2 separate regions of the Homo sapiens genome follow, and region 1 is linked to region 2. The links come from fine-mapping of genetic effects on gene expression. Tissue or cell type: whole blood. Region 2 holds a variant in brackets; the other region holds the start of a gene. All regions are shown on one strand. Distances are between the middles of the regions.

Region 1 (5,284 bases), 90 kb after region 2:
ACAGCGAAATTATTTGTCAGCCTGGAAATTTTCATGTCCTAAACATATACCAGTTATGGGAGTGTTCATGATTTAAGAATCATAGGTATTCTATGAATTTTTGGCTGCTCTTAAACATTTGTCAATAAACTAATGTTGGTTGGGACCTACAATAAAGTGTAGTTTAGATATTGATATACCACTCATACATAATACAAATGGGGACTTTTAATGACAGTCAGAAAAACGAGAATGATTCACATTAATTTCGAGCCTTCTATGTGTCCTGCATCACCCAGTAGGTATTTCACATATGCTATATGTTTTTTATTACAAAAATAACACTGCAGAGAGCCCATAACTGTTTTCCAGGAATCCTGAATTTTCTCTTTAGTGATGCTACACATACTTACTTTGGACATCAGCAATCTAACTGCCGGCTTTGCAAACTCATTCTTCAAGAGGCAAGTCATTCTTGGTAACAGCGTCCTCAGGAATGAAGCTCCTGCAGTTGAGGTTCAGTGAACGCTGCGTCAGGGATCTGCGCAGCACGTGTGGAACCCAATGAGAGTCCTTGCTGTGCAGGCACCGGGATGCTCACATAGTAAAAACTCGAGTCCATCGGGAAGCCCAGGAACTGAAAGGCATAAAGAAACCGAGTGCTAGAACACGAAGATGACATTTAGACACAGATGCTTTTCTGCAAGTCACCACACTTTAATTTTAAGAAAGGAGACTAGCGATCTATTGAATAATTCATTCCCTCATGGCACTGGTTCAACACCCCAGGCTCCTCTGCTGAGAAGCCTCCTTATGTAGCTGTACTGGACAAGTGCGGTAGAAAAGACAGAACCCAGTGGGGATGACAGAATTCTTTAATTGTCTGCAAAAGAGGAAATCCAGTTGGTGGAGAGAAAAATTATTTCCACATTGGAAAAAAAAGTAATGACAAAAATAAAAAGGCTTTGTCAAATATAGTTCACTCTTCTCATTACTTGCCTTAGTGTTTCAAAGATAAACGCTTTTTGTTACAACACATCACAGATAACGCAACTTCGCCTGACTGAACCCGGCGTGGGGAGACTGCAGAGATGGCGCTCTGCAGCCAAAACAAAGGGTGGGGGAGGGGAGGGGCAATTACAAAAAAGACACCTTATGAAAAAAAATCCCTACAATTCACAAAGCTTGCTACTGAAATTAATTTCAGGTTTCCACGTCCACGGGGACACGTACAGGATTTAAAATGACGATCACGTGGCATCTCTCAGGGCCAAATGGGGCGCATCAAAGCTTCCCCTCGACGTTTATTAACTCTGCAGTCCGTTCTCTACGTCTGCGAAGAATTGGCAGATAACGATGTGTCTGAGAGAAGAGGCGTTTTCTAAGGAGACACACAAAGGGAGTGGGACCCTCCAACCTCACTCTGTGAGAGGAACACCGCACAGCAGTGTGGGGGCTCGAACACCCCAAGAGCGGCAGAGCGCGGTTCAGAAAACATGACCCTTGAAATGCACACAAAGCCTAACAACGTGTCCTCCGCGGAAGAAAACAGCTTGAAAAGGTCGGCTTTGAAGTGACCCAGCGGAAAGGAATCACCCTGGAAGAAACACGCAGCAGCCCCGGGGCAATGCGCGGGCAGGAGGAGCAGCGAGCGCGGGGAGCGCAGGGCCCTTCGGAGAGGGCGCTCCACCGGCCCTGCGCTCCGTACCTGTGCCGCCACGCCCACCGGTCCCCTGCTGAGCCTAGCACCGCCCATTTAGACCCAGCACCACCCGTCCGGACCGAACCTAGCACCGCCCGTCCGGACCCAGCAGCGCCCATTTGGATACTGCACCGCCCGTCCAGACCCAGAACCGCCCGTCCGGACCCAGTACCACCCATCGGACCCAGCGCCGCCCATTTAGACCCAGCACCGCCAGTCCGAACCGAACCTAGCACCGCCCATGGGACCCATCGCCCGTTCGGACCCAGCACCGCCCGTCCAGATCCAGCACTGCACCCCCATTTGGATCCAGCACCGCCCGTCCAGACCCGGACCCGCCAGTCCGGACCGAACCCAGCACCGCCCATCGGATCCGGCGCCGCCCATTTAGACCTAGCACCACCCATCCGAACCGAACCTAGCACCGCCCATCGGACCCACCGCCCGTCTGGACCCAGCACCGCCCGTCTGGAACCAGCACCGCCCGTCCACAGATCCATCACCACCCATTTGGACCCAGCACCGCCCGTCCCCGCCCGTCCGGACCGAACGCAGCACCGCCCATCGGACCCAGCAGCGCCCATTTAGACCTAGCACCGCCCGTCCGAACCGAACATAGCACCGCCCATCGGACCCATCACCGCCCGTCCAGATCCAGCACCGCCCATTTGGATCCAGCACCGCCCGTCCGGACTCTGCACCGCGCGTCCGGACCCAACACAGCACCACCCATCGGACCCAGCACTGCCCATTTAGATCCAGCAGCGCGCGTCCGAACCGAACCTAGCACCGCTGGTCGGGAAGGAACCCGGTACCGCCGGTTGGGACCCACCACCGCCAGTCCAGACGGAACCCTAGCACCGCGCGGGGCCCGCCCTCCGACACCTCCCTCCCTGGCGGCCGCGGCAGCAGCACCTAGTGGAGCGGCCCGGAGGTGCGGCGGCGCCGCGCGGGGCGGCGGCGCGCACGGCGGGCGGCGGCGCGCACGGCGGCGGGCGGGGCGCGGGCGGGTGCGGGCGGCGGGCGGCGGGCGCCGGGCGCACACCGGCCGGCGGGGCTGAGGCGGCGCGGCGCGGCGCGGACTGAGCCCCAGGCGGAGGCCAAGTCGGAGGACGCGGCGCGGCCGCGGAGGCGGAGGCAGCCGCGGAGGCGGAGGCGGCCGGCGGGGGGTGGCGAGGGGCGCCGGGCCCCCGCGGACCTGTCGTCCTCGGCCCGTCCTCCGGCCCCGGCCCCGCGCGGCTGAGGAGGCGCGGCCAGGACCATGTCGGCGGGCGGCCGTGACGAGGAGCGGCGGAAGCTGGCCGACATCATCCACCACTGGAACGCCAACCGGCTGGACCTGTTCGAGATCAGCCAGCCGACCGAGGTGAGCACCGCCGGGCGCGGGGCCTGCGCGACCCCCGCCCGCTGCGCCGCGCCCCGCCCCTCCCCCCCGCCGCCGCCCGCCAGCCGCGGACCCGCCCTCCTTTCCCCCTCCCCCCTCCGCCCCTTCTCTCCCCTCCCCCTCCCCCAGGCCCACCGCGGGCCCCGGCGTCCCCCGCAGCCCCCGTCCCCCTGCCGCGGTGTATCCCGGGGTCGCGCGGGCCGAGCGGGGGCTGGCGGGGCGCGGCAGTCACCTGTTCCCCTCTCCGGCCGCTCACCTGGTGGCTCACCTGGGCCGCCGCCCCCACCCCCGCGAGCGCGGCGCGGCCCCGGCCTCATCCCCGGCGGCGCGGGGGGCGCGGCGGCGCGCGGGGCCGGCGCCCTCCACCTGCAGCCCGGTTGTGGCTCGCGGCGCCCCTTCGCCGTGGCCGGGATGGAGCCTGTGACGCGCGCTGTGCTTCGGGTTCATAAACTTGCAGGCTGCCAGCTGGGAGGGGAAAGTCAGTATCACAAAGTTCGGGAGGTGCGGGCTGCCTGATGGCACAGGCCCGGAGTCGGACGCCTCCGAGGAAAGGCGCGCCTTCTCCACCTTCGGGGCCGCGAGGAAGGGCCCTCTGCGGCGGCCTCTGCCCGGAGGGAGGCGCCGGCCCCAGGCTGGCTCCCTGAGAGGAGGAGGAAATCACGCTCGCTCCTGGCCTGGTAACAATGGGGGTTGTTTATAGCAAAGCTGCTGAAAGCGTTCCGAGCAGCTTTTAAAAAAATGTTTGAGTCCAAGTCCACTAGGAAGGGCTCCGTGGAGAGGGGAGGGAGGTGAAGGGTCGGGGAGCAACCCTGTAAATCGCTCCGCAAGGGTCGGTTCCGCGCTCTGTTCATTCGGTGGCTGCACAGACTTTACCAGCATAAAAAAATTTCACTCAATATTTGTGCCCGTTTAGGAAATCATTTTAATAGCGTCTATTTTTGATTTGTTGTAATAGGTAATTTATAGTTAATACTTGCTATAAAATACTAGCTCCTAGGCAACAAAACATGTTTGGCAGATTTGAACATTCTTACGAAATGTAATCCTTTTATCATTAAATTCCACTTTATGTTTTTGAGAGAATTTGACTATTGCTTCTCTGATTTCTTGAGTTTTTGCCAGTCATGGGAAGGACTCTATTTCTTCTGTTTTCATCTGTACCTGTGACTGCACTTGACGTGGGTAGCTAGCCATTTGTCTTAATACTGAGTTGAATACTGACACACGCCATTAGGCTCAGGTTGTCAATTTGAGCATAGATGTTATGTTAAGTTACTCCTGATTCATTCATCTTCTGTAATGATTTTATGAGTTAGGTTCTAGTAAGGGAGTTAGTACTATGTACTTAAGTGTTCGTTCATAGACTAGTGTATCTTTAGAAAGGTGACATGATAATTTAGTTTCAGGATTATGTTTTCTTTTAGAATAATGAATTCATTTTTCTTTTTATCACAAGGTAAAAAAAGTTGACCATAAAACATTTTCTTGGTGTGTAGCTTTTTTTTTTTGTTTGAATGGATTTTTTTTTTTTTTGAGAGATTTCTCAAGTCTGGTGGAAAGGAATCTTTTTTCGGTTTAATAAAGAGAATTCAGCTTTTTGGGATTTTGAATTGAGTTAGCATTAAAAAAATCTCAAATCAGAAACATTATAGTTCATTGATTTAATTAAATTCTATTTTAAGCACTCAATTGAAACTTTTTATTTCTTAGTGATATGACTAGTTTTTAAAATTGGCCTGTCATTTGGAAAGCTGTTTTTTCAGTTATACTGTAGGTGAAAGTTTGCTTTGTACATACACTGAAGCAAAACAAGAATTGAAGGACTTGGAAAAAAAGATGATATATTTCATTTCCTAATTTTTCTCCCTACTTATATCTGAACATTTCCATTTTTAGAAATTATTCTTCAGAATTGTATTAGAAGCCTTTCATAATGAAATGAATGGTTTTTAAGAATGTCCATATATTGGTTTTTTAGCTTTTTTACTATATAGTGGCTGGCTCACATTTCTATTTTGTTTTCTCGAGAACTTTCCTGTACTATTAAATTTATTCTGGTCCTAGTTAAGCTTTGCATTTAACATATTGTATCTTTTATTATGATGTAGGTAAACTTAATATGAGTAATTCTCTCAGCCAGTATTTCAAGGCCAACAGTTTCAATTTGCTTTGTCTAAGCTCGTGTGAATTTTTTTTTTTAACCATCTAATGATTATTTT
Region 2 (5,690 bases):
GCCCCGGGAGGGTGCCCTGAACTCAAAATGTCCCTTGGCGATTGGGTTTAATAACAGCATTTTCAAAGGCACTCCCCAGTCCACCATGGAATGTGGAGGCTGCCTCCTCTCCTGCCTCCGCTTTGCGGCACAGCTGTGGCTCTGGGTCCCACATGACTGCACAAAGTCAATGCCAAGGGCGTGACCAGGGTGCCCGAGACCTCACTGTGGTCTGGGTGGAGCCCCAGCACTCAGGGTGCAGCTGCGCAAAGATTGCAGGCGCCTCTCCTGGGGCCTGAGCTTGTAAGTGTCCTTTGGATGTTGGGATGGGACACCTGACTCCTCAGTAGGGCACAAGGGGCCACTGTAGGAATAAAACTCAGAAAATCCCCCTGTTCACACTCAGCAACAGCCAAGCCCCCTTCAGTGTGATGCTGTGGGTGCTGACCTACAAATCCTCACCCAGACACCTGCCACCCCGGACCCCACAGAATGGGCAGGACGAAGATCCTCCTGGTTTGGGGCGAGGAAGTGACACCCTGGTCCCAGGACATCTCCAGGGTCCTCTGTCAGATACACACCCTCACCAAGCTGGCAAATAGGATGTGTCCCCATTTCACAGATGAGGAAAGTGGAGCCCAGAGAGCTTCCACGACTTTCCCAGGGTTGCAACAGAGCGAGGAGGGTCAAAAGGAGGATGGAATGGGCATGGCCCCCAGCCCGTCCTTGACCACCAGTTCCTTCCTCTGTCTCCAGTTCCAAAGGGGTCATCACAGAGCACTTTGAAACCCCAGGGCTTCCCCCACCGACCTCCCCCACTGACCTCCGCCGCTGACTTCCCCTGCTGACCTCTGCCACTGACCTCCCCCTCTGACCTCTGCCGCTGACCTCCACCGCTGACCTCCCCCGCTGACCTTCCGCCGACCTCTGCCGCTGACCTCCCCCTCTGACCTCCGCCATTGACCTTCCCTGCTGACCTCCACCGCAGACCTCCCCCGCTGACCTCTGCCGCTGACGTCCCCCACTGACCTCCCCCTCTGACCTCCGCCACTGACCTCCGCAGCTGACATCCCCCGCTGACCTCCCCCGCTGACCTCCGCCACTGACCTCTGCCACTGAACTCCACTGCTGACCTCCCCCACTGGCCTCTGCCGCTGACCTCTGCCGCTGCCCTCCCCCGCTGACCTCCCCCGCTGACCTCCCCCACTGACCTCTGCTGCTGACCTCTGCTGCTGCCCTCCCCCGCTGACCTTCCCCACTGACCTCCCCCACTGACCTCTGCCACTGACCTCTGCTGCTGACCTCCCCTGCTGACCTCTGCTGCTGACTTCTGCCACTGACCTCTGCCGCTGACCTCTGCTGCTGACCTCCCCCGCTGACCTCCCCCACTGACCTCTGCCATTGATCTCCCCCGCTGGCCTCTACCACTGACCTCTGCCACTGACCTCCCCTGCTGAACTCTGCTCCCTCTATTTGTCCAGCTCCAGCTGCTCAAGAGACCCTGCAACCCTGAGGCCACCCCCTCTCCGTCAACCCCATGGACAAAGTGAGCTCCTTCCCCAGCTAGAGAGGCCTGCACCCCCACCTGGCTTCGTGTCTGCTTTCTTATGTGTTTTTGTTTACTTTTCTCTCCTCAGTCTTTCTCGTGGATATTATTCATATTCCTTAACTCCGTTTCTAGTCCCTAAGACACTCTGGAAACATATTATCCTTGCCTGAAAGATTCCACTCATAATAAAGTGCCTTGCACTGAATGTGCTGTTAGAATCACAGGAAAACAGGTGTCACTGGAAGCTGCCCTGCCGGCCGGAATCCTGGAATAGGGCAACACCTGGAATGGGCCTTTGTTGGCTCCAGAGAATAGAAGCTGGTGGCTGTCATGTGTGCCAGTCACCACTTACACTTGGGCATCGGCGTCTCACAGCAGTGGAAGATGCATGCTTGAAAGTGAACGAACAGTCTTTCTTTCAGCCTTCTACTCCTTACCCCCTTCAGTAGGGTCTGTAATTTGAAGATCCATTTCGTATTTCCCATGGCTGCTTGGTGGGTTTTGTAGAATGACCTGAATCTTAACCTTTTCCAGCCAAAGAACAGGCATTTCTAGAAGAGCTTATTGATGGCAAAAAGGAAGAAAAAAAAAACCTTCACCAGGATATTCCTCCTGAGGAAAATGACTTTTTAAAGCTTTTGCAATGCC[A/G]AAAAAATACAAATGTGTGGATATCACTTACACTTCCAATAAAAGATGACAGCAACGTGGACTCGTCAAGTGGACGCCATGGTCTCCAGGTGAAGCCACTTTCTATTCAGCAAAAGAGAGGAAATGGAGGGTGATAGCTGCCAGCACCCACAGTGCTCCAGATGCGGCCTGGGGCGGGTGTACGCTCCCTTGCAGCTTCACACTGACCGAGGCAAACACTGCTATTGCAGCTCTTTTGAGATTAAACCACTAAGAATCTAAGAAACCAGATGACTGCCAAGGCAAACTCAGCTCCTTCTCGCATGAGATCAGGGCAGAACCCAGACTGATTCCACAGCCTGTGCCTTCCTTCCCTGTCACGGCATCTTCTAGAGTTCTCTGGAATCCCTCTACTGAAGCTGAGCCAGAAATCTCTCTTGAGTGGAAGTGGAGCTGGTCCCAGGTGTGCCAAGCACCAAGCGAGGTGGCTGGAAATAAGAATTAGGTCACAGTCTCCCGGGAAGCAGGTGGGGAGGCTGCTCCCTCCTGACTGCCATGTGCACCCCGACTCCAGGGAATGGACAGTGCCGACCGTGTTCTGAGGGTGCCCCGCTCTTGGTCTGGTGCCAGCACCTGCCTGGGCCTTGCCCTCTGCCTGCTGGGCTGGGATCTGATGCTGCGACCCAGCCCAGCACACCCAGTTCTGCTGCCCGCATAGCCAGAGGACTAGCGGACTTTGTGTGATGTGGCTGCTTCGTGACCCCCATTCAGAGAGGCTGACGGAGTGCGAGGGGCATGGCCCACGGGCCCACCGTGGGGTTGCAGGGCCAGGGCGCCGCCTGGCCTGGGCTGAGTAACGATGAGCTGCTGGGACAGTGGGGGCTGCAGCAGAGACCCAGGGTGGCTCGGAGCGTGGCTGCTGCACCTTCTCCCAAGCCTGGCCACTGCAGGGGACAGCGGTGGAGACCCTTCCATCCTGCAGCATTCCCAACACTGCACCTGCTGCCACCGGCGCACGCTGCATGCCAGGCAACAGGGACAGAGCCCACTCAGACAGAGCTTCCATCTCAAGCTTCAGCCTTGGACTGCTAATGCTAAAGTTGAGCTTTCACCATCAGCCCCAGTGCGGAGCCCCGGCAGGCTGCAGAGTCTGCCCAGCACCCCTAGTCAAGCAGGTGCCCAGTCCGGGATGAGAGCCACCCTGCATCTCCACGCAGCCCCACGTCCCCAAGTGTCAGGGCCTTATGAGGGCTGCGTCCTCCCTCTCCCAGTGCACCCCGCCAGGCTCCCCCCGTAGTCCGTCCTCCACAGGTTGTGCTGTGAGCTGGCCCCAAAACAAACCCTGCAGTGGGAGGAGCTGGAAGTCACCTGGGCTCCATCTCGCCTCCTCGTCTGTCACCCTCCACTCCATGCTCCTGGAGCTCTGGGCCCTCCCGGCCCTGCCTGCTGCCCCCTTCATTTGCCAGGCTGGCTTGTTTTCTTTTTTCTTGTGTCCACGTGTCTATCATTTTCTCTGGGGGCTGCATGAACTGCCCCTTCTTCTGGGCTCTAGAACATTTCTCGTCAGTAGGCTTGTGTGCTCATCTTCCCTATGGGACTAGAAATTCCTCCAGAATAAGGACCAGGCAGTGTTCATCTGTGTATCCAGAACCCAGACCTATGCTGAGAAGGAGATAGACATCCCATAAATATTTACCAAGCAAGCGAAAGAGAACGTCGCCTCTGACTGGCTAGCAGACATACCTTATCTTCTTCTTCCAGCAGGTGTGGATAATGACCAGGAGAGGTTTCCCAGGAACAGGTCCTCGACGATGCTTCTCATCATCAGCCTCTTCCTCCCCATCATGACAGCCCTTTTGGTCCGGTGGGCCATCCTCTTCTCTTACCTCACCAGCACGGAAGATTTGTTGAGATGTATGCACTCTAGTTTTTATTATTAAACCAAGAGTTGCTTATGTTTCTAGATAGAAAAGTATAATTGTTGGATAGATTTTTCAAAATGCATTTTCCTGCCCAAGGGAATCACCGACCCGGAGGGTGTATTGCCGCCTGACAACGGCCCACGTGTGCCCAGCACTGGGCTGCCTCTCGCATTTGGCAGCCGGGTCCTGCTGGCGCCTCTGCCCAGCGCTCTCCCACCCAACGCCTGTGCTGTGAAGGCTCTCAGAGCCCACCCGGCCCATTCCTCCCAGGGCACCCTGAAGAGCACCCCCACCCAGCATGTGCTAGCACCATGGGGTGGCACACGAAGGGAAGAAATCAGTGTCTCATTCCTTAAGAGGCGCTTTAAAGTGTGTGAAAAGCATGCACTTGTGAGAGGAATTGCAAACAAAGCAACACAATGGGGCCTCTGCCTCCTCTTGCCAGAGAAACGTGTGCATGCACACGCAAACACAATTTTACAGATGCTGCAAACAAATTTTCATCAGCACAGATTTAGCTTAATAAATTATAGTGTCTTCCTATGACAGAACGTCATGCATTGAATCGTGTGGAGAAGTTTTTTCAGTATATGTTGAGTGGAAAAGCATGGACATAGTATGTACATGGCAGTCACAATTTGGGTGGAGTGAAACAGCCGGGAATACCTGCGATGACGGTGGGAGCTGTCTCTGGGGTCATGGGCACCTGTAGTTTTCTTCTTGTGCTTTTGTGCATTGAAATTTTTTTTCTACAATGAATTTGCACCATATAAAAATTAGGACAATGACCATATCACGTGAGAGACAGAGTGAGCCGACTTCCCTGTCAGGCCCAGCACCGCATGGCTCCTTCGGGGTATGAGTCAGGTCTTCATATCTTGGTATCTGCAGGGCTCAGCCCAATATGTGTTTTTGAATAAATATATGTATTCAAAGCTCATCCTCTAAATATACTAACAAAATATGCAAAGAAAGTCTTACCTCAATTAACGTTTGGAGAAACTTTGATTCAAAAGCACTAGCTCAGGGCCAGAGGGAACAAAGCTGAGAGTTCATGAGGGCCTGGCCCAGAGAGGTCTTTCCTTCACTGGGAGATTGTGGTTTCCAGGCCACATAAGGAAAAGTCGTCTGGAGTTGAACCCAAAGATGACAAAAAGAGCAAAACACTCATGTGTTCCTTTTTTTTTTCTTTTTTTAATCAATATATAATTGATGTAAAAGGAAACATGGAGATCATATATGTTCAGCTCAATGTGTTCTCACGCTTGCCCAGGCCCATGTCACACCACACAAGGAAAGGCATAAAACACACTTTCCACCAAGCCAGAAAGTTCCCTTGGGCCTTTCTGATCAAATGCCCCGATTTCTATCCTTATGGCTTCATTTGCCTGTTCTTGGACTTCCCACTAATGGAGTCACACAGTGTACCATCTTTTGCCTCGGACGTCTTTTGCCTACCGTCATGTTTCGAGGTGCGTCCACCCCGTTGCCTGGATCAGCATCCATCCCCTCGCTACTGGGTAGCCCGCCATGGTGTGGCTGCTCCCCAATTTGTTGTCCACATCCCGTGATTTGACGTGTGGACGGTTCCCGGTCTGGACTGCTTTGCACGT

What was found. PIP is the estimated chance that this variant, and not a neighbour inherited with it, causes the effect.
Region 1: AFDN starts here. The variant in region 2 is fine-mapped to the expression of AFDN in whole blood (INTERVAL, PIP above 0.99).

What each region holds. Positions count from the first base shown.
Region 1 is chr6:167,824,191-167,829,474 of GRCh38, forward strand. It overlaps AFDN (afadin, adherens junction formation factor), which reads left to right and starts at 2,721. Exons shown (of 34, transcript NM_001386888.1): 1 at 2,721-3,047. The coding sequence starts at 2,943. AFDN-DT (AFDN divergent transcript) reads right to left here and starts at 2,606. Exons shown (of 2, transcript NR_027906.1): 1 at 1,213-2,606; 2 at 1-616. RefSeq lists silencers at 1,690-1,759, 2,674-2,873 and enhancers at 2,344-2,413, 2,444-2,523.
Region 2 is chr6:167,734,308-167,739,997 of GRCh38, forward strand. No RefSeq gene overlaps it. Among named protein-coding and RNA genes, the nearest start is that of LINC02487, 41 kb to the left of the region's middle. The variant A/G (reference allele first, on the strand shown) is at 2,177.